Homo sapiens: one gene and its partners. The protein of the gene in region 1 interacts with the protein of each later gene in a biochemical or structural test. Each region holds a gene or a part of one and is shown in the gene's direction. Other genes may lie near its edges. The genes, in order: KCTD7, CAPNS1, CAPN1 and CAPN2.

Region 1 (7,031 bases):
AGGAGTAGATGCCTGGAAGTATTCAACACACAACTACTGAGCTCTGCTGTGGGCAGCCCATGATTGGTGACCAAGATGCTTTCCCTGTCTTTGGGAAGCTTGGGGTCTAGTGGAGTGAATTGACAGAGGGAAATAATTGGCGATGTATCGTGCTAGGTGCTATTATAGAGGAGAATATGACACACGGTGAAGGCACAGTCGAAGAATGTGTCATTAACTCTGTCCTAGGGGCAGGTGAGGGACAGTAGACAGAAATGCTCACAGATGAGGGGAACTTGAATAGAAATTTCTAGAATGAGTAGATGCCACTAAACTGTATGGTGTGTTGGTGTGAATTAGAAAAAGGGCACATAGCAGGCCGGGCGTGGTGGCTCACGCCGGTAATCCCAGCACTTGGGGAGGCCAAGGCGGGCGGATCATGAGGTCAGGAGATCGAGACAATCCTGGCTAACACGGTGAAACCCTATCTCTACTAAAAATACAAAAAATTAGCCAGTCGTGGTGGCAGGCACCTGTAGTCCCAGCTACTCGGGAGGCTGAGGCAGGAGAATGGTGTGAACCCGAGAGGCGGAGGTTGCAGTGAGCCGAGATCGCGCCACTGAACTCCAGCCTGGGTGACACAGGCTGGGACTCCGTCTCAAAAAAAAAAAAAAAAAGAAAAAGGGCACATAGCAGATGACTCTCATCCAGGTGCTTTTATGCAGTGAACAACCTATAACACTGTATGGGTCCATTTAACTTGCCATATAGACAGAAGAAGGAGACTGGTAAGAGCATTTTGGGCAAAGAAGACAATGTGAGCAAGAGCACTAAGATAGTAAATTCAGGAAGTGAAAGGACACTGAAGGCTTGAGCTCTAGAGCAGCGATAATGGAGTTGAGGTGGAGAGACCTGATTTAAAAGCTATCAGGGGGCCAGGCACAGTGGCTCATGCCTGTAATCCCAGCACTTTGGGAGGCCGAGGCAGGTGGATCATGAGGTCAGGAGATCGAGACCATCCTGGCTAACGCAGTGAAACCCCATCTCTACTAAAAAAATATATATATATATACAAAAAATTAGCCGGGTGTGGTGGAGGGCGCCTGTAGTCCCAGCTACTCCGGGAGGCTGAGGCAGGAGAATGGCGTGAACCCGGGAGGCGGAGCTTGCAGTGAGCCAACATCACGCCACTGCACTCCAGCCTGGGAGATGAGTGAAACTCCATCTCAAAAAAAAAAGAGCTATGAGGGTTAGAATGGGTAGGACTTGGCAGATGATGAGGGTGGGGCAGAGGGAGGAGAGAGAAGAAAGTGTTCAGATGGACCCGTGGGCTTGAGTGACTGAATGAATGGTGTGGCACCAATCAGACCCCAGGGATTGAAGATGGAGCAGCCCCAGCTCTCATTCCCCGTTGCCTGCCTGAGAGCCCTGGTGATTTCTTTCCAGTTTCCTGAGGTTGTTCCCCTTAACATCGGAGGGGCTCACTTCACTACACGCCTGTCCACACTGCGGTGCTACGAAGACACCATGTTGGCAGCCATGTTCAGTGGGCGGCACTACATCCCCACGGACTCCGAGGGCCGGTACTTCATCGACCGAGATGGCACACACTTTGGGTATGTCTCTCCCTCTACAATCAACTTTGTAGTCCTAGCAGGTGATTAGCGTAGGCTTGAGTATGGGACCTTGATATCTTCCATAGTACCTAGAAGAGGAGATAGCATATTGATGAAATTTAATAAATGGGTTTATTGAAAGAGATCAATTTTTTTTTTTTTTTTTGCCAAAGGAGACAAAGACAGCCAGAGAAATTCGAAATAACACACTGGCTGGATGAAATTGCTTCAATCATAGACAATTAAACAATTTTTATTTTCAGCTCTGCGCGGTGCTCATGCCTGTAATCCCAGCACTTTGGGAGGCTGAGGCAGGTAGATCACTTGAGGCCAGGAGTTCCAGACCAGCTCATTACAGCATGGTGAAACCCCATCTCTACTAAAAATACAAAAATTAGCTGGGTGTGGTGGCTCATACCTGCAATCCCAGCTACTCAGGAAGCTGAGGTCGAAGAATCGCTTGAACCCAGGAGGCAGAGGTTGCAGTGACCCGAGATCACGCCTCTGCGCTCCAGCCTGGGCGACACGAGATTCCATCTCAAAAAACAAAACAAAATTTCATTTTTATTTATTTATTATTTATTTATTTATCTCATTATACACCCACACACACAGATGTACACATACATGCACACATATATATATATGTATATATGGGTGTGTGTATACATATATATATATATATATATATATGTATATATATGAGCTCTGATGCACTGAGGCTTCCACTGGTCTTGATGTGTGTGATTCTATCTATCTATCTATCTATCTATCTATCTATCTATAAAAATAAAGATAGGATCTTGCTGTGTTGCCCAGACTGGTCTCAAGCTCCTGGCCTTAGGCAGTCCTCCCACCTTGGCCTCCTAAAATGCTGGTATTACAGTATTTATTTAAGTTTTAGGTGTTGTTTTTTTTTCGGGGGCTGTTTTTTTGGAGATAGGGTCTTGCTATGTTGCCCAGGGTGGAATGTAGTGGTTGTTCACCAGTGCCATCATAGCTCACTGCATCCTTAAACTCCTGGCTCAAGCAGTCTTCTCCCTTCAGCCTCCTGAATAGCTGAGACTACAGGTGTGCGCCACTGCACCTGGCTGTCCTATGCAATATGAGACCAGGAAGTTGTCATCTGTGTGGAGAGGAATAAGTGTAATCCCACATAGGGGGATAGTCTAAAACAACATGGAGAGTACCTTTAGACCTGGATTTTGGGGCTCAGCGTTGCCATGGGAAGGAGGCATGGTGTGTAGCAGTGGTTACCAGACTTCTTTCAGTAGTTTAAAGGAATAAAAAGAGATGGAAGACTGATACAGTGTTGTTCTTTAATTTTGCCAAGGAAAGTCTTTAAAAAAAAAAAAACCCTCTGTTGTTCTTGTCACTTAACACTAAAATGTGGAAAAACACAATGTCAACAACAGCAAAATAGCAGCCAGGCGTGGTGGTACTTGCCTGTAGTCACAGCTACTTGTGAGGCCGAGGTGGGAGGATTGGTTGAGCTCAGGAGTTGGAGTCTGCAGTGAGCCATGATCCTACCACTGTGCTCCAGCCAGGGCAACAGAGTGAGACTGTCTTTTTTTTTTTTTTTTTTTTGAGTCAGCGTCTTGCTCTGTTGCCCAAGCTGAGTGCAGTGATGCAAGCACAGCTCACTACAGCCTTGACCTCCCAGGTGCAAGCAATTTTGCTGCCTCAGTTTCCCAAGTAGCTGGGACTAGAGGTGCACACCACCACGCCTGGCTAATTTTTGATGTTTTTTAGAGATGAGGTTTCACTATGTTGGCCAGGATGTTCTCGAACACCTGGACTCAAGTGATCCTCCTGCCTCAGACTGCCAAAGTGCTGGGATTACAGGCCCAGCCTGTAGTTTGTGTCCGGCCCGGCCGAGACTCTGTGTCTTAAAAAAGAAAACAAAACCTTTCCCAAGAAAGGACTTCTGACAGTCTTACATGTAAACAATTTAAAGACTTTATGTCTCAGGGGTTCCATGTTTGTGAAATGAGAAATAATTATAGCTGCTGCACAGGCTTGTCAAAGAGGATTATATAAAGAGCCTTGGTGTGACCCCTAGCCATGTCCTTTTCAGAGTACGTGGCTGGAACTCTTAGCTCCTTCAGTCTGACATTGGAGATGACTAGAGACCTTGAACCAAGTGCCCAGGAGGCAGAAACTCTCCAACCACTACATCTCTGTGCTGGCCTCCAAGAAGGATTGCCCACATTGTGGGAAAGATCATTTTTATTCTCAGAAAGGAGCCCCTGGTCAAATAACTTGCTTGGAAGCATCTGGGTTTCCCCAGTGGGCTATCAGCTGCCTCCAATGCTGAGAAAACAAAGTGTCACATCGCTCTGCAGAACTATAAAAAGATGTTTGTTTGCGGGCTGTTTGGGGAAGGAAAGTGCCGGCCCCAGCTAGCAGCTCCCACAGCACCCTTAGCTGGGCCTTGCCCCAGGGTTTTGTTTTTCAGAGCTCACCAAGGTTTGCTGAAGATCTAGAAGGGATTTTGGGGAGGGGTTCTGGGTTTGACTTGAGGTGGATGTGCCCATGCTCAGGTGGCCACAGCTAGAGAGTGACAGCGCCAGGCAAGGGCATGGCAGAAAGCAGGAGATGGCGACATTCTTACTTTGGCTGATGAGCTCCTGTGACCTATGATTCATCAGCAGCAGATGAAGTTGTTGAATGACTCAGATAAAATAGGCGGTTCAGGGCATTTCGTAGGGTGCATTTCTTACTATACAGCTTATGTATCCCTAGCGTCCACCGTGAAGGCTGCTTGGGCCTCAGTCTGGGGTCGTTCCCCATTGTCATCAGCTTGCTGCACTCTGGTCTAAATGTTTCTGCTGAAGCTGGACCATGGTAGATGTGGGTGTAGAATCAGCCATGGCTGGATCTGAGCCTCTGGCAGCGGTGGCTACTTGAGCAAGCATGTTCCTGAACCTGTCTGGGCCCCACTTGAGCCTCATTTATGACATAGAGATAAGATAGCACACACCCCCAATGTCATTGAGAGGATTACATGGGATAACCCATGAATAGTGGCTGGCATGGAGTAATACTTAGCGAGTGTTAGCTGGTGTTGTATTAGGTCATAGACTAAGCTGTTATTGAGGTAGCAGCATTATCTTGGGGTTTACTCACTGTCTTCCGCACGTACGGGTGATGTATCTGATTACTCTGAGCACTAAATAATCTAAAAAGCTGGTGGCTTGCACCTATGGTCCCAGTTATTCGGGAGGCTGAGGCAAGAGGACTGCTTGAGCCCAGGAGTTAGAGGCTGCAGTGAGCTATGATTGCACCACTGCCCTCCAGCCTGGGTGACAGAACAAGATCCTATCTCTTAAAAAAGAAGAAAAAAAATCTGAAAAGTGAATTAGAAGGACTGAATTTTTATTTTAAGAAAATGCAATATGTGATTTTATTCAGCCCTGAAACCAGTTTGTTCAGACATTAGAGTTAGGCATTTTACCTGCTCTGCATAGCTACAGAATAATACTAGTGGCAAGGATGGGGAACACCTAGAACTCTTCTGCATTGCTGTTGGGAATGTAAAATGCTGCAACCACTTTGTTAACCACGTGCTTACCCTATGACTGAATGACTCTACTGCTAATACTTAAAAGAAATTTGTGCTTGTGTCCACTAAAGGTTTCTTTTGTTTGTTTGTTTTTGTGATGGAGTCTCACACTGTCACCCAGACTGGAGTGCAGTGGCGTGATCTTAGCTCACTGCAACCTCCACTTCCCAGGTTGAAGCAGTTCCCCTGCCTCAGCCTCCAGAGTAGCTGGGATTACAGACACCCACCACCATACCTGGCTAATTTTTGTATTTTTAGTAGAGATGGAGTTTCACCGTTTTGGCCAGGCTGGTCTTAAACTCCTGAGCTCAGATGATCCACCCACCTCGGCCTCCCAAAGTGCTGGGATCACACGTGTGAGCCACCGTGCCTGGCCTAAAGGTCTTATATAGGAATGTTCATCCCAGCTTTACTCATAATAGCCAAAAACTGGAAACAACCCAAATGTCCATCAACAAGACAACAGGGTAAATAAATTACACCATATTCATGCAAGGGTATACTTACATAATGAATAATAACTAATAAAAACAAAAAAACAAACTACTGGTTTGTTTTTATTATTTATTTGGTGGATACATTTCAAAAACATTATGTTAAAGGAAAGAAGCCAGGTATGAAAGAGAACATACTATATAATTCTGTTTATATATATATTTCAAGAAAAGGCAAAACTCATCTTTACTGATGGAAGGAGAAGTTAGAGTGGTTGCTTCCGTAGGGATTAACTGGGAAGTGGCATGAGGAACCTTAAGGAATGGAAATGTTTCATCTTGATCTAGGTGATGGTTGGATGGGTATATTCATACTTAAAAAAACAACTGAACTGTACAGTTAATATTTGTACATTTATTGAATATTTCACCTCAATTCTAAAACTATATATATATAAAGGGCTAGGTGTCATATCTTTCCATTATACTTACATATACCTAATAATACCTAATATTATACCTAATAATAGTAATTATAGTTGCTTACTGATAACAACAACTAATAACACTTATTGAGGCCCTACTCTGTGCCAGGGATTTTCTAATCACTTAATTCCCTAACACATTATGAGGTTTTATTGTTTTCTCCAATTTTACAGACAGGGAAACTGAGACATGGAGTAGTTAAGTTCATTTACCCAGTGTAACACAGCTGGCAGTCTGGTTTTAGATTTTGTCCAATGCACACTGTGTGGCACTGCCCAGGAGCATAAGCTCCTTGTCACCGACCCTCTTTCCTTCCTGCTTAGAGATGTGCTGAATTTCCTGCGCTCAGGGGACCTCCCACCCAGGGAGCGTGTTCGAGCTGTGTACAAAGAGGCCCAGTACTATGCCATCGGGCCCCTCCTGGAGCAGCTGGAGAACATGCAGCCACTGAAGGGCGAGAAGGTGCGCCAAGCGTTTCTGGGACTCATGCCCTATTACAAAGGTGAGGGTCAGCTGCCCAGGATGGTGGGTATGTGGGAGGAGGTCTGCAAGGCATCTGTGAGTGTTTAGGTCTCCATCAGAACACCGGGGGCAGCATTCATCCAGATTACTCAAGATGCGATGGAGTGTCATCCCTTCCCAGTCACGCTGGGGAGATTCAGGTTAAGGTGGGCCTACCTGGCCTATGACAGTTAGCAAATTGTATTTCAGAAGGACAGCCCTCGTCCCATTGGCTTCCCTTTGCTGTGGAGAACCGTGACCCTTGTTTAAGTTTGTGCCCTTCATTGGCCCCCTGAGTCCCTTCCCCGGGAAATCTGTCTTTCCCCTCCTGCATCCTGCCATCTTCAGGACTGTTTCTCTGTGCATCTCTGCTGCCCTGTCCTGCCTCTTCACCCTAGTGATAGGTGTTGTGTTCATCCTTATAGACCACTTGGAGCGGATTGTGGAGAT
Region 2 (7,031 bases), on another chromosome or scaffold:
TTCAACCTGTTACCCACAGACCCTGATCTGAAGACTGATGGTTTTGGCATTGACACATGTCGCAGCATGGTGGCCGTGATGGATGTATCCTTGGGGGCAGTGTGGGAGAGGCCCTGGGTGGACAGAGAGTTTTTTGAGAGTATGTTTGGGAAGCCAACATGTAGCTTTCATATCCACAGATGTGGAAATGCATTCATCAGAACACAGTCACCTGCAGACATGTGGCGGTAAATCATAACAATGCCAGCTGTCACAGCTGGCACTTTAATTATATAAAGTGACCGAACCGTCATAACCACCCTGTTGGACAGGCACAATTATTATATTCCATTTTACAGAAGAGGAAACTGAGGCTCAGTTTCCTGAAAGAAGCAGTCATTTGTCTCAAGTTATAGATAAAGGTCAGGCATGGTGGCTCATGCCTGTAATCCCAACACTTTGGGAGGCTAAGGTGGGCAGATCACCTGAGGTCAGGAGTTTGAGACCAGCCTGGCCAACATGGTGAAACCCCATCTCTATTAAAAATACAAAAATTGGCCAGGCACGGTGGCTCACACCTGTAATCCCAGCACTTTGGGAGGCCGAGGCGGGCGGATCACGAGATCAGGAGATTGAGACCATCCTGGCTAACACAGTGAAACCCTGTCTCTACCAAAAAAAAAAAAAAAATTAGCCGGGCGTAGTGGCGGGCGCCTGTAGTCCCAGCTATTCGGGAGGCTGAAGCAGGAGAATGGCGTGAACCCGAGAGGAGGAGCTTGCAGTGAGCCGAGATCGCGCCACTGCACTCCAGCCTGGGCGACAGAGCCAGACTCTGTCTCAAAAAATAAAATAAAAATAAAAATAAAAATAGGCCGGGCGCCGTGGCTCACGCCTGTAATCCCAGCACTTTGGGAGGCCGAGGCGGGCGGATCACGAGGTCAGGAGATCGAGACCATCCTGGCTAACACGGTGAAACCCTGTCTCTACTAAAAATACAAAAAAATTAGCCGGGTGCAGTGGTGAGCGCCTGTAGTCCCAGCTACTCGGGAGGCTGAGGCAGGAGAATGGCGTGAACCTGGGAGGCGGAGCTTTGCAGTGAGCCGAGATCGCGCCACTGCACTCCAGCCTAGGCGACAGAGAGAGACTCCGTCTCAAAAAAAAAAAAAAAGAAAAAAAAAGAAAAATAACAATAACAAAAATTAGCTGGGCGTGGTGGTGCACGCCTGTAGTCCCAGCTACTCGGGAGTCCCAGCTACTCAAGCAGGAGAATTGCTTGAACCCGGGAGGCGGAGGTTGCAGTGAGCAGAGGTTTCGTCACTGCACTCCAGTCTGTGGACTCAGGTCTTTTGGGCTTGAGAACCCACGTTTATAACAGCCACATGCGCATATACACACACACACACCTAAGAGCACACCCACATACGTGAAGGTGTATGAGGCAGTGTGCACAGGGACACACGTGTTATCTGTACATGGGCCAGCCATTAGCTGATCTTGGATACATGCATATTTTTATTTATTTTTGTTTTAAAAAATATTTTATAGAGAAAAGCTTTCACTATATTGACCTGGCAAGTCTCAAACTCCAGACCTTAAGCAATCCTTCCGCCTTGGCCTCCCAAAGTGTTGGGATTACAAGCTTGAGACACTGCGCCTGGCCTCATGCACATTTAACACATAGGGCAAACAGACACATACATAATATACATGTCATGTAATCACAGACATATTGCATAGAGCAAAGCAATCCCAACTCTACCTCTTAACCAGGTTATTGAACCGCTCTGTGCCTCAGTTTCTCTCTCTGTAAAATGGGTGAGTGATAATGGTGATACCGAATCGGAACTACATCCAAAAGGTTTAGCACAGTGTATAGCGCATAGTATGTGGTCTGTACACATTAGCTCTTAACTATGATCTTGGGTAGAGTTTTCAGCTTTGAATGTTTTCTTCTCTGGAAATAGTCCTGGTAGAACTGGTGTCCCAAGGATTTAGTGAGAAAGTGATGTTCCTGAGTGGACATCAGGTGGATCCTGAGTTCAAGCGATCCACCTGCCTTGGCTTCCCAAAGTGCTGGGATTACAGGCATGAACCACCATGCCTGGTCACACACTTGTTTTTCACATATCCTAACATTTTTATGAAATTGAGTTACTGTCAAGAATTTTCTTTTCTTTCTCTTTTTTTTTTTTTTTTTTTGAGACAGAGTCTCACTCTGTTTCCCAGGCTGAAGTGCGGTGGTGCCATCTTGGCTCACTGCTAACTCCACCTCCTAGGTTCAAGCAGTTCTCCTCCCTCAGCCTCCTGAATAGCTGGGATTACAGGTGTGCGCTACTACAGCTGGCCAATTTTTGTATTTTTAGTAGAGACGGGATTTCATCATGTTGGCCAGGCTGGTCTCGAACTCCTGACCTCAAGTGAACCGCCTGCTTCGGCCTCCCAAAGTGCTGGATTGCAGGCGGGAGCCACCGTGCGTGGCCTATTAAGAATTTTCTGAATGAGCAATTAACAACTCTTCAGGCAAGGAATTTGTACTTTAGAGTAGTTGAATATAATTCCTCATGGTTATGTTTAAAGAGAATCCCTATTTAGAAATGTAAGTGACAATATGTATGGATAAAATGAAAAATAAAACCGCACACCAGGTGATATGACTAGGACCAAGCGGGAGCTGGAGTTTCAGCCCTGGCTGCCCTGCTTGCTGTATCACCATCGTGTCCACAGTGCATGTGATGCATGCATCTGGGTGTAGCTGTCACTCTTCTTAACACCCTCCCACCAGAGCGACACCACAGGCAAGCTGGGCTTTGAGGAATTCAAGTACTTGTGGAACAACATCAAAAGGTGGCAGGTGTGTAGAAACCTCTGAAATCCCTGGCACCCAGACCCCCAAGCCATGGAGACACTATGCCCCACAATGCTCACTTGGACCCAATGTCTCTGTCCTCACAGGCCATATACAAACAGTTCGACACTGACCGATCAGGGACCATTTGCAGTAGTGAACTCCCAGGTGCCTTTGAGGCAGCAGGTATGGCTGGCAGGGACATGCTGGGGCTGGGAGTGGGATGGGTGAGAAAACCTCTACTCAGCTGGTCTGGGCCTGACTCCTGGGCATGGGAGTGGGTTGGGCCATGTGGCCCCCGCACCTGAAGGACTACATCCATCTTAGGGTTCCACCTGAATGAGCATCTCTATAACATGATCATCCGACGCTACTCAGATGAAAGTGGGAACATGGATTTTGACAACTTCATCAGCTGCTTGGTCAGGCTGGACGCCATGTTCCGTGAGTGACAACCCAGCTGTCTTCCTGGGTGGGGATTCCTATGACCTCTATGGACCAAGGTCTCCTCTAAGCCTGACTTTGAGGTGGGCGATGCTAGGGGCACAGTGGTGATTGAATCAGTTCCAGTTTCTGCCCTCATGGAGCTCACAGTCTGGTGGAGGAGACACAAGTCCCCAGACAGTGACAGTTCAGACTGGTGATGGCTGGGAGAGGGGAAGCTCAGGGCAGAGTGATGGGTTGTGATGGGGGCAGCACAGGCCGAGGGTCTAGGGCTCTGGTGAGGGGAAGAGTGAGCAGAGCGTGCTCAGATTGTGCTTGGGGAAGCCTAGAGGGCAAATCCAATCCAGGAGGAACCTGATGCAGCCCAAGGGGTCAGGGAGGGCTCACTGGAGAGGGAACATTGAGACCTGAGGGGATGAGGAGAGAACTTAGTGAGAAGGTAGGGAATACTGTTGCAGGCTGAGGGAACAGCCTGTGCAAAGGCCTAGAAGGGAAAGAAGATGGGGCTTCTGATGCTTTTTGTTAGATTTCTTTCTTTCTATTTTTTTGAGACAGAGTCTGCTGCTCTTGTTGCCCAGGCTGGAGTGCAGTGGCATGATCATGGCTGACTGCAGCCTCAACTCCTAGGCTCCAGCAGTCCTCCTGCCTCAGCTTACCGAATACCTGGGAGTACAGGCACACACCGCCATGCCTGGCTAATTTTTAAAATTTTTTGTAGAGACAGGGTCTTGCTATGTTGCCCAGGCTGGTCTTGAACTCCTGGGCTCCAGCAATCCTCCTACCTCAGCCTCCCAAAGCTTTGGTGTTACAGGCATGAGCCATTGCATGTGGCCTTCTGAGTGTTAGTGTACTGAATGCTGAAGACATGGCTGGGAAGTGGGGATTACTGTCCTTATTTTGTGAAGGAGGAACTTAGGATTCAAGGAGGCAAATTTTCATGCTCATAGTCACCCAGCTAGGAAGTTGTAAAGCCAGAATTTGAACTTGGATCTATCTGAGATCTGAGCTAAGTAAGAGAAGGTAGGAGCAGTGAGCATGATTAGGTCATGCAGGATTGTGGGTGCCAAGTTTGGGGGTGCTCAAACTCTACCAGAGACATTGGGGAGCCATGGCAGGTTCTAGGCAGAGGGAGGACAGGGTCAGGTTTGGCTTTAGAAAGATCCCTTGGCCTCGGCTGGGCACGGTGGCTCACGCCTGTAATCCCAGCACTTTGGGAGGCCGAGGAGGGCGGATCACGAGGTCAGGAGTTCGAGACCATCCTGGCTAACACAGTGAAACCCCATCTCTACTAAAAATACAAAAAATTAGCCAGGTGTGGTGGCGGGCGCCTGTAGTCCCAGCTACTTGGGAGGCTGAGGCGGGAGAATGGCATGAACCCAGGAGGCGGAGCTTGCAGTGAGCTGAGATCTGCCACTGCACTCCAGCCTGGGTGACAGATCGAGACTCCGTCTTAAAAAAAAAAAATCCCTTGGCCTCCAGGCCGGGTGCAGTGGCTTATGCCTGTAATCCCAGCACTCTGGGAGGCTGAGGTGGGCGTAAAACCTGAGGTCAGGAGTTCAAGACCAGCCTGGCCAACATGGCGAAACCCCGCATCTACTAACGATACAAAAGTTAGCCAGGCGTGGGGGCGTGTCTGTAGTCCCAGCTACTCAGGAGGTTTAGGGAGGGAGAATTGCTTGAACCCAGGAAGCGGAGGTTGCAGTGAGCAGAGGTCATGCCATTGCACTCCAGCCTCCAACCTGGGTGACAAGAGCGAGATTCCATCTCAAAAAAAAAAAAAGAAAAAAAGATCCCTTGGCCTCCAGAGAGCCCACAATGCATGAAAAGTAACAGAGGAAAAGAAGCAGGTATGTGAGATAGCAGGGAGGTGAAGGGAGTGGACAGACAAGGTTGATGCCACAAGTCACATAAGAGGGGCCAGGAAATAGCCACTGGATCTACCAGCAAGAAGGCTGATAGTCGGGAGGATCATTTGAGTCCAGGAGTTTGAGACCAGCCTGGGCAATGTAGTAGGACTCCATCTCTACAAAAAAAAAAAAATATATGTATATAGACATAGCCGGGCATGGTGGCACATGCCTGTGGTCTCAGTTGCTCGGGAGGCTGAGGTAGGAGAATCACTTGAGCCCGGGAGGGTGAGGCTGCAGTGAGCTATGATCTTGCCACTGGACTCCAGCCTGGGCCACAGAGACACCGTCTAAAAAAAAAAAAAAAAGGGCTGGGCATGGTGGCTCACTCCTGTAATCCCAGCACTTTGGGAGGCCGAGGTGGGCGGATCACCTGATGTCAGGAGTTTGAGACCAGCCTGGCCAACATAGTGAAACCCCGTCTCTACTAAAAATACAAAAAAATTAGCCAGGCGTGGTGGTGCACGCCTGTAGTCCCAGCTACTCAGGAGGCTGAGGCAGGAGAATCACTTGAACCTGGGAGGCAAAGGTTGCAGTGAGCCAAGATCGTGCCACTGCACTCCAGCCTGGGCAACAGAGTGGGACTCTGTCTCAAAAAAAAAAAGAAAGAAAGGCAGCCAGGGTGTGCAGGACGCTGTGGGTATGGACACCTGAGGGTGGTGGTAACTGAGCGGAGATAGTGTAGTCATCATGTCTAGATTCCCTGTGGGTGGGGAACATGGAGTCAAGTTTCAGGGCAGGCGTGGGGACCTACCTGTAAGACTCTAGGGGCAGGAAGTAGAGTGTGCAGAGCCTCCCTCTAGTAGCCTGTTAGGCTTAGAACTGGAGAGGATGGAGCATAGATGTCAGTAGGAGGCTGGGGCTGGGCAGAGGTGATATCAGTACACAGAGGCCATTATTGAGGAGGGTAACAGATTGGATTCCAATCCTGATTTCTTCACTTTCTTGCTATGTGACCTGGGGCATGGCCCCTCCCTTCCTGCCTCATTTCTTTTTTTCCTGTTTTTAATTTTTAGTTTTTTTAAAAAGCAGAGATGAGGTCTCTGTTGCCCAGGTTGGTCTCGAACTCCTGGGCGGCTCAAGTGATCCTCCCATCTTGGCCTTCCAAAGTGTTGGGATTATAGGTGTGAGCCACCACGCCCAGCCTGTGCCTCATTTTAAAATGACACTTATCTCACAGAGTTGGATTAAATCAGCCAATACCTGGAAAGCACTTTACCCCATGCTTGGCACACAGTAAATACTCAGTGAAGTGCCAGCTGCTATGATTGTCATCCCATGTATTTGTGTAATGTTATTATGCCAAAAACCAGTCTCCTTCCTTCCCTGCCGCCAAACCTCTGCATCTCCTCCTCCAGGTGCCTTCAAATCTCTTGACAAAGATGGCACTGGACAAATCCAGGTGAACATCCAGGAGGTAAGGACCCCCATATTGGGGTATGGGTGCCTGGGAGGACCCCACCCCTCAGCCCTTCATACCAGCTCTGAGCTGCAGTCCCCTTCCTCCTATTTTGCCAGCCGTCCCTGGGTGAGGGCAAAGGGGCTGGTGCTCTTGGGGTTCCCTGTCCTCACTCTCCACCCTCCTCTCCCCAGTGGCTGCAGCTGACTATGTATTCCTGAACTGGAGCCCCAGACCCGCCCCCTCACTGCCTTGCTATAGGAGTCACCTGGAGCCTCGGTCTCTCCCAGGGCCGATCCTGTCTGCAGTCACATCTTTGTGGGGCCTGCTGACCCACAAGCTTTTGTTCTCTCAGTACTTGTTACCCAGCTTCTCAACATCCAGGGCCCAATTTGCCCTGCCTGGAGTTCCCCCTGGCTCTAGGACACTCTAACAAGCTCTGTCCACGGGTCTCCCC
Region 3 (6,610 bases), on another chromosome or scaffold:
GAGCTGGATTTGAGCCCTGGTCCTCAGAGCCCCTGTCTGACATGTACACATGAGGCTTTTCCTGCCTTGCCATCTACACCAAGTAAGTGCCAACTAGGGCGGTCCAGCAATGTCAGGAGCAGGGCATTAGACAGGCTGAGAGTTCTGTACCCTTGAGCAGTTGCTTAAGCTCCGAGCCTGTGTTTGTGTCTGTAAAATGGGTGTAACAGCAGAACAGCAAATGAGGTGCCGAGTACCCTGCAGTACCTGACCTGGGGAAAGCTCCCAGTGATAATAATGACAGTGTTATTGAAACACATGCCTAATCTGCAATCCGGTGCTCCTCTCCTCTACCCTCTGCAGTGAGTAGGGTTGTTACATTTTACAGATGAGGAAACTGAGGCAAAATGTCTTGTTAGGGTCACACAGGCTGTGAGTGAGCCATGCCCCAGCTCTCCAGCCCCTTGGCCAGGACAAGGAGCCTGGAGTCTGGGTCTGGGGGTGGCCCCTGAGGGTGGGCTGAGTGGGCAGCTGCAGCCCTGCTCCCTCCTCCCTCCCACCAGCTGGTGGGCCAGCCGGCCGTACACTTGAAGCGTGACTTCTTCCTGGCCAATGCGTCTCGGGCGCGCTCAGAGCAGTTCATCAACCTGCGAGAGGTCAGCACCCGCTTCCGCCTGCCACCCGGGGAGTATGTGGTGGTGCCCTCCACCTTCGAGCCCAACAAGGAGGGCGACTTCGTGCTGCGCTTCTTCTCAGAGAAGAGTGCTGGGACTGTGTGAGTCATGGACTGGCCCCTGCCACTCTCCCCTCTCCCAGCCTCCCCTCTCAGGCCCTCTGCTGTCCCCCTCTGACTGGCTCCTTTCCTCCCCACTCTCTGCAGGGAGCTGGATGACCAGATCCAGGCCAATCTCCCCGATGAGGTGCGTGGTCCCACCCCACCAGGCCCCGTCCTCCTCTCTTCCTCACCCCTGGGTGTGTGATGGGGACCCAGGTGTCCTGTCCCCTGAGTTCCTGCTAACAGGGAAGATCCCCTCCTGGTGGAAGCCATAGGAGTAGTGCTAATCCCTCATCCGCCCAGCACTTTACAGTTTGCAGAGGACCTGTGATACTAATGGCACAGGCCCTGAGCTCTCACCCGGTGGCGGGTTTGTGCTGAGCACTTCACCTGTGTTACCTCATTTCCTCCCCACATCAACCCTGTCCGGGTCTTGTTACCATACCTCCTCTGAATGGGAAATTCAGGTTCACAGAGGTTAGGGAACTTGCCTGAGGCCATACAGTAGGGATCCAAACTCTTGCCTTTTTTTTTTTTTTTTTTTTGAGAGAGTCTCACTCTGTCACCCAGGCTGGAGTGCAATGGCGTGATCTCGGCTCACTGCAACCTCCGTCTCCTGGGTTCAGGTGATTCTCCTGCCTCAGCCTCCTGAGTAGCTGGGATTACAGGCGCACGTTACCACACCTGGCTAATTTTTGTATTTTTAGTAGAGACGGGGTTTTGCCATTTTGGTCAGGCTGGTTTCAAACTCCTGACTTCAAGTGATCCACCCACCTCGGCCTCACAAAGTGCTAGGATTACAGGTGTGAGCCACCGCACCTGGCCCAAACTCTTGCCTTTTACTCACTGAGCTGAACAGCATCCCCTTCATTTAGGTCACATGAGTGCTGGATATGGGGCGGGGCAGGGCAGGGCAGGAACGAGATTCCCTTTTCAGATTAGAAAAGTGAGACTCAAGCCGGGCTCAGTGGCTCACGCCTGTAATCCTAGCACTTTGGGAGGTTGAGGCGGGCGGATAACCTGAGGTCGGGAGTTTGAGACCAGCCTGGCCAACATGGCAAAACCCCGTCTCTACTAAAAATACAAAAATTAGCCGGGCATGGTGGTGGGCACCTTTAATCCCAGCTACTCAGGAGGCTGAGGCAGGGAGAATGGCTTGAGCCCGGGAGGCGGAGGTTGCAGTGAGCTGAGATCACGCCACTGTACTCCAGCCTGGGTGACAGAGTGAAACTCCATCTCAAAAAGAAAAGAAAAGAAAAGTGAGGCTCAGAGAAGCGAAGTGACTTGTAGCAGATATGTGACCTCAGCCCTCCCTCCAGCTGCCTCCACACGGGCAGGGCCGGGGCCTCTCTTACCTGCTTTCTCCCCTTCTCGGTCCAGCAAGTGCTCTCAGAAGAGGAGATTGACGAGAACTTCAAGGCCCTCTTCAGGCAGCTGGCAGGGGAGGTAGGTTGGGGCATGGCAGGTTGGGAGGGGCCTGTGAGGGGCAGCCCTCTCCTGGGGCAGGTGCCACCTCCTCTCTCTCCCCAGGACATGGAGATCAGCGTGAAGGAGTTGCGGACAATCCTCAATAGGATCATCAGCAAACGTGAGTCCCCGCGGGGCTGTCCCACCACCCCACCATTTCTTCCACATCAGAATCCAGGCTCCTGCTCACACATTGAGCTGAACCTCATCCCTTGGTCTGCATGAGTCGGGGAATCCTCCAGTTTTTCTGAGCCCAGTTCCCTGCCATTTCCATCCCATACTCCTCCTCCTGACCTGCCATCCTGATAATCCCTGTGCTCGGGTGCTGTGCCTTTGTGGGATTAGCAGCGCAGCCTGGCCAGGCACAGTGGCTCACACCTGTAGTCCCAACACTCTGGGAGGCCGAGGCAGGAGTCGCTTCAGCCCAGGAGTTCAACACCAGCCTGGACAATATGGAGAGACCCTGTCTCTGCAAAAAAGTACAAAAATTAGCTGGGCGTGGTGGCATGCACCTATAGTCCCAGCTACTCAGGAGGCTGAGTTGGGAGGATGGCTTGAGACCAGGGAGGTTAAGGCTGCAGTGAGCTGTGATCACATCAGTGCACTCCAGCCTGGGCAACAGAGCAAGACCCTGTCTCAAAAAAAAAAGCAGGAGCAGCACCTTAGTGCCAAAGAAAAGTCTACCTTTCCTCCCAGAGCCTCCTGGGCCAGGCTGAGTGGCTTGGGGAACACCACGTGACTGGCTTCACTCCCCAGGGCAGACAACTGCTGGCCTCTCATCCCCTCCCCTCCCCTTTGCTGCCACTGACCTCCATCCACACGGTTTCCTTAAGCAGAGCTTTTCTCCTCCTCTTCTCTGCTAGTGAAGCACTGCTTACCCTCCTAGCCTACAGCAAGCCCTGCCCTGCCCCATCTTTCTACCCAATTTCTCGCTCTTCTGTTTCACACTCATTTCTTTTTACTTTGGACTAATTGTGGCTGTTGGGACTTTGGCTTGATTGCTAAAATACTTTACTTGTACTTCCTGATGATACAAACAATCCTGCCCACTTCCTCTGCCAGATATTGCACCCACTCGTCAGGATTTGTGCGTCCTTGACTCTGCCCCACCCAGTGCTCCCAGCAGGGGCAGGTGCAGGAAGCTCACTAGGTGGAGATGTTGGAATTGGTTTTTCTTGCAGACAAAGACCTGCGGACCAAGGGCTTCAGCCTAGAGTCGTGCCGCAGCATGGTGAACCTCATGGATGTATCCTTCCGTTTGCTTTTGTCTCCTGAGTGGGGTTTTGGGTGGAGGTATCGGTGCTGGGAGAACTGTCCCAGGACAGCACAGAGAACAGGACAGAGCCATGCGGAGTGTGGACACACAGTGCCCCATGCTCAGATGTCTCCCTGGACGTCTTCCTGTTGGTTGGGAGGGAGAAACTGAGGCACAGACCTGTGTCAAGTGAAAGGTGGAGCAAGACCTGGGTCCCCATTGACCCTGAGGCTGGTGCTATTTCTGACCCCTCCCCAGCCCACTCCACTGCAGCCCAGCTCAGAGAATAAGGCAAGCCCGGCTGTGGGCTGACTGTACATGGCTTTTGCTGCTTCTCCTCACCCAGCCCCAAGTCGACTTGCCGGCTCGGCGGCCATCTCCCCTTCTGCACAGTTGCCCACTCTCCCATGACTGGTCTAAGTGATGGAATTTCCTTCTTAACGGCCACCCAGCGTGATGGCAATGGGAAGCTGGGCCTGGTGGAGTTCAACATCCTGTGGAACCGCATCCGGAATTACCTGGTAGGTTGTCCCCACTCACCTCAGTCATGCAGGTGCGGGCCGGGCAGGTGGGAAGGGCCGGGTGACTCAGCCTGGCCCTCACCCTCTGCCGCCACCTCAGTCCATCTTCCGGAAGTTTGACCTGGACAAGTCGGGCAGCATGAGTGCCTACGAGATGCGGATGGCCATTGAGTCGGCAGGTGAGACTCCAAGGCTGACGGCACCTGTGGGGCCCAGGACAGGTAGCCCCACTGCTCCTATGCCCCAGGCCCTTGTCCCTGGGGTGCTAGTGGTGACATGGTAACAGCCATCTTGTCCTTTTCCCCACGGTTACTAGCACCCTGCCTAGCCCCAGCCCCCTCCTGGGGACCCAACCCCTCCCCCATCCTGTTGGGCAGGGGCTGCGCCTCACTGACCTTCACTCACTCTCCTGGACCAGGCTTCAAGCTCAACAAGAAGCTGTACGAGCTCATCATCACCCGCTACTCGGAGCCCGACCTGGCGGTCGACTTTGACAATTTCGTTTGCTGCCTGGTGCGGCTAGAGACCATGTTCCGTGAGTGTCCCCAACTGCCTCCCACCCTCCAGCTCCGTCCCAAACGCGTCCCCCAGGAGCTGGGGGGAATGACAGATGGGTGAATTAGCAGATACAGGCCAGTGCTGTGGGTGTGTGCCAGAGAGGCCTGGGTCTGGGTTTGGGGGGCCCTGGCTGAGTGCCAGGAGAGTCGGGGAGGGAGGGAGTTGACAGTGGCTTCTCAGGCAGCAGGAAGGGGTGAAGCTTCCCAGCTTCAAGGGGTGTCAGCTTGCGGTACTGTGGGGAGGTAGAGAGGGACCAGGCAGGAAGGGGGCCAGGCCTGGCCCTGCGTGAATATCCCACTGAGTTTTCAGCCCTGTATCACCTTTTCTTGAACACACAGGATTTTTCAAAACTCTGGACACAGATCTGGATGGAGTTGTGACCTTTGACTTGTTTAAGGTGGGAACCTCCCTGGGCCCATGGTTGGGGAAGAGTTCCAGGCGATCGAATTTTCTTATCTGGCCAGTGTTCCCTGTCCTTTCCTGGAAATGAGCCTGGGCCTCAGAGCCAACCCTGAAGCCCGGGCCACCTGAATCCTGAAAGGCTGGGGTGGGGGTGTCTGGATTCTGGGAAAGGAGCAGGAGGGGAGGTCCAGGCCCTTGGAGGCCCCTATGGGAGCAGCACTCTGGTTTCCCAGGGGTGGAGGAGGTAAGAAAGTAACCCCTCCATGAGGTTCCTGAGGTGGCTCCTGAGACGTGGAGTTGGGGGCTGGACCTGGGGTTTGGGTGGGGAAGAAGCCAGGGAGCCATTTCTGCGGCCCCAGCTGACCTGCCTGTTCTCCCGCAGTGGTTGCAGCTGACCATGTTTGCATGAGGCAGGGACTCGGTCCCCCTTGCCGTGCTCCCCTCCCTCCTCGTCTGCCAAGCCTCGCCTCCTACCACACCACACCAGGCCACCCCAGCTGCAAGTGCCTTCCTTGGAGCAGAGAGGCAGCCTCGTCCTCCTGTCCCCTCTCCTCCCAGCCACCATCGTTCATCTGCTCCGGGCAGAACTGTGTGGCCCCTGCCTGTGCCAGCCATGGGCTCGGGATGGACTCCCTGGGCCCCACCCATTGCCAAGCCAGGAAGGCAGCTTTCGCTTGTTCCTGCCTCGGGACAGCCCCGGGTTTCCCCAGCATCCTGATGTGTCCCCTCTCCCCACTTCAGAGGCCACCCACTCAGCACCACCGGCCTGGCCTTGCCTGCAGACTATAAACTATAACCACTAGCTCGACACAGTCTGCAGTCCAGGCGTGTGGAGCCGCCTCCCGGCTCGGGGAGGCCCCGGGGCTGGGAACGCCTGTGCCTTCCTGCGCCGAAGCCAACGCCCCCTCTGTCCTTCCCTGGCCCTGCTGCCGACCAGGAGCTGCCCAGCCTGTGGGCGGTCGGCCTTCCCTCCTTCGCTCCTTTTTTATATTAGTGATTTTAAAGGGGACTCTTCAGGGACTTGTGTACTGGTTATGGGGGTGCCAGAGGCACTAGGCTTGGGGTGGGGAGGTCCCGTGTTCCATATAGAGGAACCCCAAATAATAAAAGGCCCCACATCTGTCTGTGATGTGTTTCTCCCCAGCCTACTGCCTGGAGGGCACCTGCAGGCCCCGGCCCATGGGGGCAGCTCGTGGCCTCAGCTCACCCCTCCCCTCCAACCCCTCCATCTCCTTCCCCTTGACCTTGAAGCTTGAACCCCTACTGGAGTACTGGGTATCTGGGCAAGACCACCCCTGGCCCTGGGAGGTTGGGAAGGAGGGGCCCTAGCTGCAGGGACAGGGCCACACAGCTGAGGTCCCACATGGCTCTGCTGATCCTACATGCCCTCCCCGCCGCCCAGGAGGCCTGACCCCTACCTTTCTTGCACACTTCGGCCCGTTGAGGTGAGGCTCTGGCTGAAATTCAAACCTCTACTTAGCACACACCCGGCCCCCCAGAGAGCTCCCCCGAGCACAGAGCCGCCTTCAGGTCCCTCTGTGGGGAGCCCCTGTGACCCAGACACCTGCACTTACATAAGCCGCTCCAGGGCCTGCTGGGATCTGGGATTTTCTTACCAGAGATAAGAGTGGTTTGGGGGAAGGAAGAGGGGAT
Region 4 (5,011 bases), on another chromosome or scaffold:
ACAGCAGCAGCATGGTTAACAACATGAAGCAACTGTGACCATGAGAACAGAAACAGGCAAGAAAACACTTATGTGTCAGCAAAGGACACAGGCAGGGTGAAGGTGGACAGTTCAAAAACAAAAGAAACAGCAGAAGGTACTGGCTTTGCAAAATCAAACCAGTCTCACAGAAGAGCAGCCAAGGGACAAAAGCAATTATACCTCATTTAAATCACCACATTAGTTTCATAGCCTGTGAGCGCAGCTAAATGGAACAATCTAATGCTTAGCAATGAGTTTGTTTGTTCATGTAACTTCAGGTTTCAAGATGCCCTGTCAACTCCACCAAGTCATCGTTGCTCGGTTTGCAGATGACCAGCTCATCATCGATTTTGATAATTTTGTTCGGTGTTTGGTTCGGCTGGAAACGCTATTCAGTAAGTGGATATTTGGGGAATGACTCATTTCAGTTCTCTTGGTATTAAAGTGGCCTGCCTTTCACCTCGGTGAAATCATCTAAACTAGAGACATGTCTTCCAGGAGTTGAGAATGAAATTCCCTCTTTACTAATTTGAGGGTGAGGAAGAAAGCATGTATGGTGGTCAGTGAAGTCAGTTGCTGAACTGAAAAGAGGATAATGTGATCTGTTTCAGCTCACTCACTTGTGACACCCTCTTTTTCTCCCTCCACAGAGATATTTAAGCAGCTGGATCCCGAGAATACTGGAACAATAGAGCTCGACCTTATCTCTGTGAGTCAGCAGGCCCCGCCTTGCTTCTAAGGGGATGGGGGAGGCATGGGGCGGAAAGGGCTGTTACTTGAGTGATCTGCTTTTTCAAGTTTTGCTTTAAAGAGCTCTTGGTCTGTCGGGGCCAGGCCTGTAACCGGTTGTAAGATCCCACAATGCACTTTTACTTGCAGTTGTTTTCCAACCACCTATTCTCAAGTCCAAAATGCACGCCTGGCTCCCTCTTCTCATGAGCTTTGACTTGAGTGTAGCTCAAGGTTAAACTAAGGAGTGGCTGCAGGATCATGCTTAGAAAAATGAACTCCTGATTAGCATGCAAGGGAGAACATGTTTATATAAAGAAATCCTTCAGCTGAAATTCAAGTTGGGTTTTGGGAAGATCCATCATTCTTAGAGTGGATCTACTTAAAATACTTTAAGCAAATTAGTTTTCTCTACTCCCTCCCCGTTTAAGATAAAACCAATACTAGTAAATACGTTTGCCATTTATTATTGTTATTGCACTCATGTGTCTGGAACCCTAGCAATACACATCTCTGAAATGATCATCAATCTGAATTAAGTGGGTATGCTAATTTCACAAAAAGCAAAGCGTAAAATGTTCTCGTGTCATCCCAATGACAGGAAGTTCTCTCACTGAAAGAAAGAAGCCAGGTGGGGTATACTTCCATTATCACCTGGCTCCAGTCAGCATTTCCTCTATACTCAGGGAAGGCCACAGAGGGCCGGGCGAAGTGGCTGACACTGGGTGAGAATGGCAGTTGTCAGTCCTGTCCGTGTAACAGAGGAGTGAAGTGGTGAGGAGGGCAGGTCTAAGGCACTGGCAGCTCTTTTCCATGGATTTTGAACTCTGGAGGAAGGCAGCAACTAAATAACTGTCTCATTCTGCTATTATGCATTGTATTAGCAAAGTGAAAATATAGTCTATCTGGTTACAAATAACACTAACTTGCTTAAAACTTTACATATCCTAGGAAATATCTCTACCCCTAGATTGCAATGTAGAGTCAACCCCATCTCTAAAAAAATAAAAAATTAGGCTGGCCGCAGTGGTTCATGCCTGTAATCCCATCACTTTGGGAGGCCAAGGCAGGTGGATCACCTGAGGTCAGGAGCTCAAGACCAGCCTGGCCAACATGGTGAAACCGCGTCTCTACTGAAAATACAAAAATTAGGGCTGGGCGCGGTGGCTCACATCTATAATCCTAGCACTTTGGGAGGCCAAGGCGGGCGAATCACCTGAGGTTGGGAGTTCGAGACCAGCCTGAGTAACATGGAGAAACCCCATCTCTACTAAAAATACAAAATTAGCCAGGCGTGGTGACACATGCCTGTTAATCCCAGCTACTCGGGAGGCTGAAGCGAAAGGATTGCTTGAACCCGGGAGGCGGAGGTTGCGGCGAGCTGAGATTGCACCATTGTACTCCATCCAGCCTGGGCAACAAGAGCAAAACTGCATCTAAAAAAAAAATTAGCTGGGCGTGGTGGCAGGTGCCTGTAAATACGTTACTCTGGAGGCTGAGGCAGGAGAATCACATGAACCTAGGAGGTAGAGGTTGCAGTGAACTGAGATGGTGCCACTGCACTCCAGCCTAGGCAACAAGAGCAAAACCCTGTCTCAGAAAAAAATAAATAAAAAATAAAAAAATGAGCCAGGCATGGTGGTGCGTGCCTGTAGACCCAGCTACCCAGGAGGCTAAGGTGGGAGGAACACCTGAGCCCAGAAGTCAAGGCCGCAGTGAGCCATGATCTCCCCACTACATTCCATCTTGGGTGACAGAGCAAGGCCCTGTCTCAAAAAATTTAAAATGAAATAAATAGTAGAGTCAACACAACTGTGACACGAAACATGCCACATGTTAAGTTCTGGAAATCCTAGCCTGTCATTCTTGCTGGATATCCTATTCTACCCCAGCCACCCACCCCCACTCCAGGGTCCACCTGGCCTGCCTGCTCAGTCCACTCCCTCCGCATCTCCTCCGAGAAGCATCTTCTTACCCACTGGCTTTTCCTGCCACTCCTAAGCCTTACCTTTTGCAGGTTCCTGGAGATCCTCGCTTCTCGTAGTCTTTGCAAGGATGAGCCATGTTCAGAAGCTCTCCGTTCAGTCTGCAGGGATTTCAACCTTGGCTGCAGATTCCATCACATGGGGAGCTTTGCCAAAGTGCTGGTGTCCTGTCTGTATCCCAGACCAGTTGAATCAATCTGATTTAAAGTTTCCGTATCACTACAACTTAGAACCAATGCTGAACACCATTGGTTGCAGGGATATCCACATCCCAAACTAACTTCTGATGTGATACTCTGAGGCAGAGATGTGAAAATGCTAATTTCTGTTGTGTGAATTTCACTTTTCATGTGTGCAATCAACCCTGTAATATGATTCATGGCCACTTAATGCAAATCACACAGACTACTGACCTGTTAAAAGCTAGACTCTAGAAATCAGGTAAGAAAAATATGAGTTAGTGCACTGATATTGTAGCCCTCAATCAGCTTTTCCAGTACAAGTTTTTTGGAACAATCTACAGGTACTTAAATAGCCTTTAATTTTAAAAGTGGTCACTGAGCTGACTTTTTTTTTTCCTTCCTCACAGTGGCTCTGTTTCTCAGTACTTTGAAGTTATAACTAATCTGCCTGAAGACTTCTCATGATGGAAAATCAGCCAAGGACTAAGCTTCCATAGAAATACACTTTGTATCTGGACCTCAAAATTATGGGAACATTTACTTAAACGGATGATCATAGCTGAAAATAATGATACTGTCAATTTGAGATAGCAGAAGTTTCACACATCAAAGTAAAAGATTTGCATATCATTATACTAAATGCAAATGAGTCGCTTAACCCTTGACAAGGTCAAAGAAAGCTTTAAATCTGTAAATAGTATACACTTTTTACTTTTACACACTTTCCTGTTCATAGCAATATTAAATCAGGAAAAAAAAATGCAGGGAGGTATTTAACAGCTGAGCAAAAACATTGAGTCGCTCTCAAAGGACACGAGGCCCTTGGCAGGGAATATTTAAAGCAACTTCAAGTTTAAAATGCAGCTGTTGATTCTACCAAACAACAGTCCAAGATTACCATTTCCCATGAGCCAACTGGGAAACATGGTATATCATGAAGTAATCTTGTCAAGGCATCTGGAGAGTCCAGGAGAGAAGACTCACCTCTGTCGCTTGGGTTAAACAAGAGACAGGTTTTGTAGAATATTGATTGGTAATAGTAAATCGTTCTCCTTACAATCAAGTTCTTGACCCTATTCGGCCTTATACATCTGGTCTTACAAAGACCAAAGGGATCCTGCGCTTGATCAACTGAACCAGTATGCCAAAACCAGGCATCCAATTTGTAAACCAATTATGATAAAGGACAAAATAAGCTGTTTGCCACCTCAAAACTTTATGAACTTCACCACCACTAGTGTCTGTCCATGGAGTTAGAGGGGACATCACTTAGAAGTTCTTATAGAAAGGACACAAGTTTGTTTCCTGGCTTTACCTTGGGAAAATGCTAGCAACATTATAGAAATTTTGCCTTGTTGCCTTATCTTCTTCCAAATGTACTGTTAAATAAAAATAAAGGGTTACCCCATGCAATCACACCATGCCATGTTTTCCTTCCTGGAGGGCAGCCCCACAGGACGGTTTATGAGCACACAATTATAGCTTGTTTCTACTTTAACAAGGTATGCTGCCTCTGTAAATTCATGTATTCAAAGGAAAAGACACCTTGCCTATAATTAAAATGTGGAACTATAAAATTTTTTAAAATCCAATTCAGAAACTTTGATAATCTGACCATAACATAAGGGAAGCTCTAATTTCTACTGCTTGCTGATCTGCTGTTAGGCAGCACAGAGACGTATGTGCCTCTCAGGAAGTTCCCTGCTCGACCTTGGCCAGCTCCTCCTGGGGTAGGTACAAGCAAGGGAGCTGAGAAAACATGCAGATGAAGTCACTGGTCTGGTGCTTGTGGTTCTTGATGAATCATTTCCTCAAGATGACTTGAGATGATAGGCAAATGCCATCCTAATATTTCCTGAACAAGGTGAGACAATGGATTTCCCAAACTCGGCTCAAATGAGTTGAAGTTCTCTTGCTTGCTGAGTGGATTTTGAGGGCAAAGGGGAGGCTGGTGGCCATGAGAGTGCAGGAGTCCCAACCTCCTCGCATCGGTGATTTCTCTGTCCAGCTGCACAGGTGGCAGGAAAGATGTGGGAGATGTTTGGACTGACTCAAGATTGGAGGTGGGCAAGGGAAGGGTAGCTGAAGGATCAG

The links.
Region 2: of the proteins of KCTD7 (region 1) and CAPNS1, one has a biochemical effect on the other in vitro, tested with the Homo sapiens proteins (one study listed by BioGRID).
Region 3: of the proteins of KCTD7 (region 1) and CAPN1, one has a biochemical effect on the other in vitro, tested with the Homo sapiens proteins (one study listed by BioGRID).
Region 4: of the proteins of KCTD7 (region 1) and CAPN2, one has a biochemical effect on the other in vitro, tested with the Homo sapiens proteins (one study listed by BioGRID).

The regions. Positions count from the first base shown.
Region 1 is NC_000007.14:66,631,850-66,638,880, forward strand, and holds part of KCTD7 (BTB/POZ domain-containing protein KCTD7), read left to right. Parts: intron 1-1,425; coding exon 1,426-1,595; intron 1,596-6,403; coding exon 6,404-6,582; intron 6,583-7,006; coding exon 7,007-7,031. UniProt on the Homo sapiens protein: May be involved in the control of excitability of cortical neurons.
Region 2 is NC_000019.10:36,143,045-36,150,075, forward strand, and holds part of CAPNS1 (calpain small subunit 1), read left to right. Parts: intron 1-19; coding exon 20-84; intron 85-2,761; coding exon 2,762-2,830; intron 2,831-2,931; coding exon 2,932-3,010; intron 3,011-3,151; coding exon 3,152-3,268; intron 3,269-6,533; coding exon 6,534-6,592; coding exon of another isoform or gene 6,593-6,768; coding exon 6,769-6,795; 3' UTR 6,796-7,031. UniProt on the Homo sapiens protein: Regulatory subunit of the calcium-regulated non-lysosomal thiol-protease which catalyzes limited proteolysis of substrates involved in cytoskeletal remodeling and signal transduction. Essential for embryonic development.
Region 3 is NC_000011.10:65,205,921-65,212,530, forward strand, and holds the end of CAPN1 (calpain-1 catalytic subunit), read left to right. Parts: intron 1-542; coding exon 543-754; intron 755-859; coding exon 860-899; intron 900-2,134; coding exon 2,135-2,200; intron 2,201-2,284; coding exon 2,285-2,342; intron 2,343-3,402; coding exon 3,403-3,467; intron 3,468-3,928; coding exon 3,929-3,997; intron 3,998-4,097; coding exon 4,098-4,176; intron 4,177-4,415; coding exon 4,416-4,532; intron 4,533-4,893; coding exon 4,894-4,952; intron 4,953-5,339; coding exon 5,340-5,366; 3' UTR 5,367-6,086; downstream 6,087-6,610. UniProt on the Homo sapiens protein: Calcium-regulated non-lysosomal thiol-protease which catalyzes limited proteolysis of substrates involved in cytoskeletal remodeling and signal transduction. Proteolytically cleaves CTBP1 at 'Asn-375', 'Gly-387' and 'His-409'.
Region 4 is NC_000001.11:223,771,510-223,776,520, forward strand, and holds the end of CAPN2 (calpain-2 catalytic subunit), read left to right. Parts: intron 1-299; coding exon 300-416; intron 417-671; coding exon 672-730; intron 731-1,201; exon of another isoform or gene 1,202-1,577; intron 1,578-2,758; exon of another isoform or gene 2,759-3,324; coding exon 3,325-3,348; 3' UTR 3,349-4,509; downstream 4,510-5,011. UniProt on the Homo sapiens protein: Calcium-regulated non-lysosomal thiol-protease which catalyzes limited proteolysis of substrates involved in cytoskeletal remodeling and signal transduction. Proteolytically cleaves MYOC at 'Arg-226'.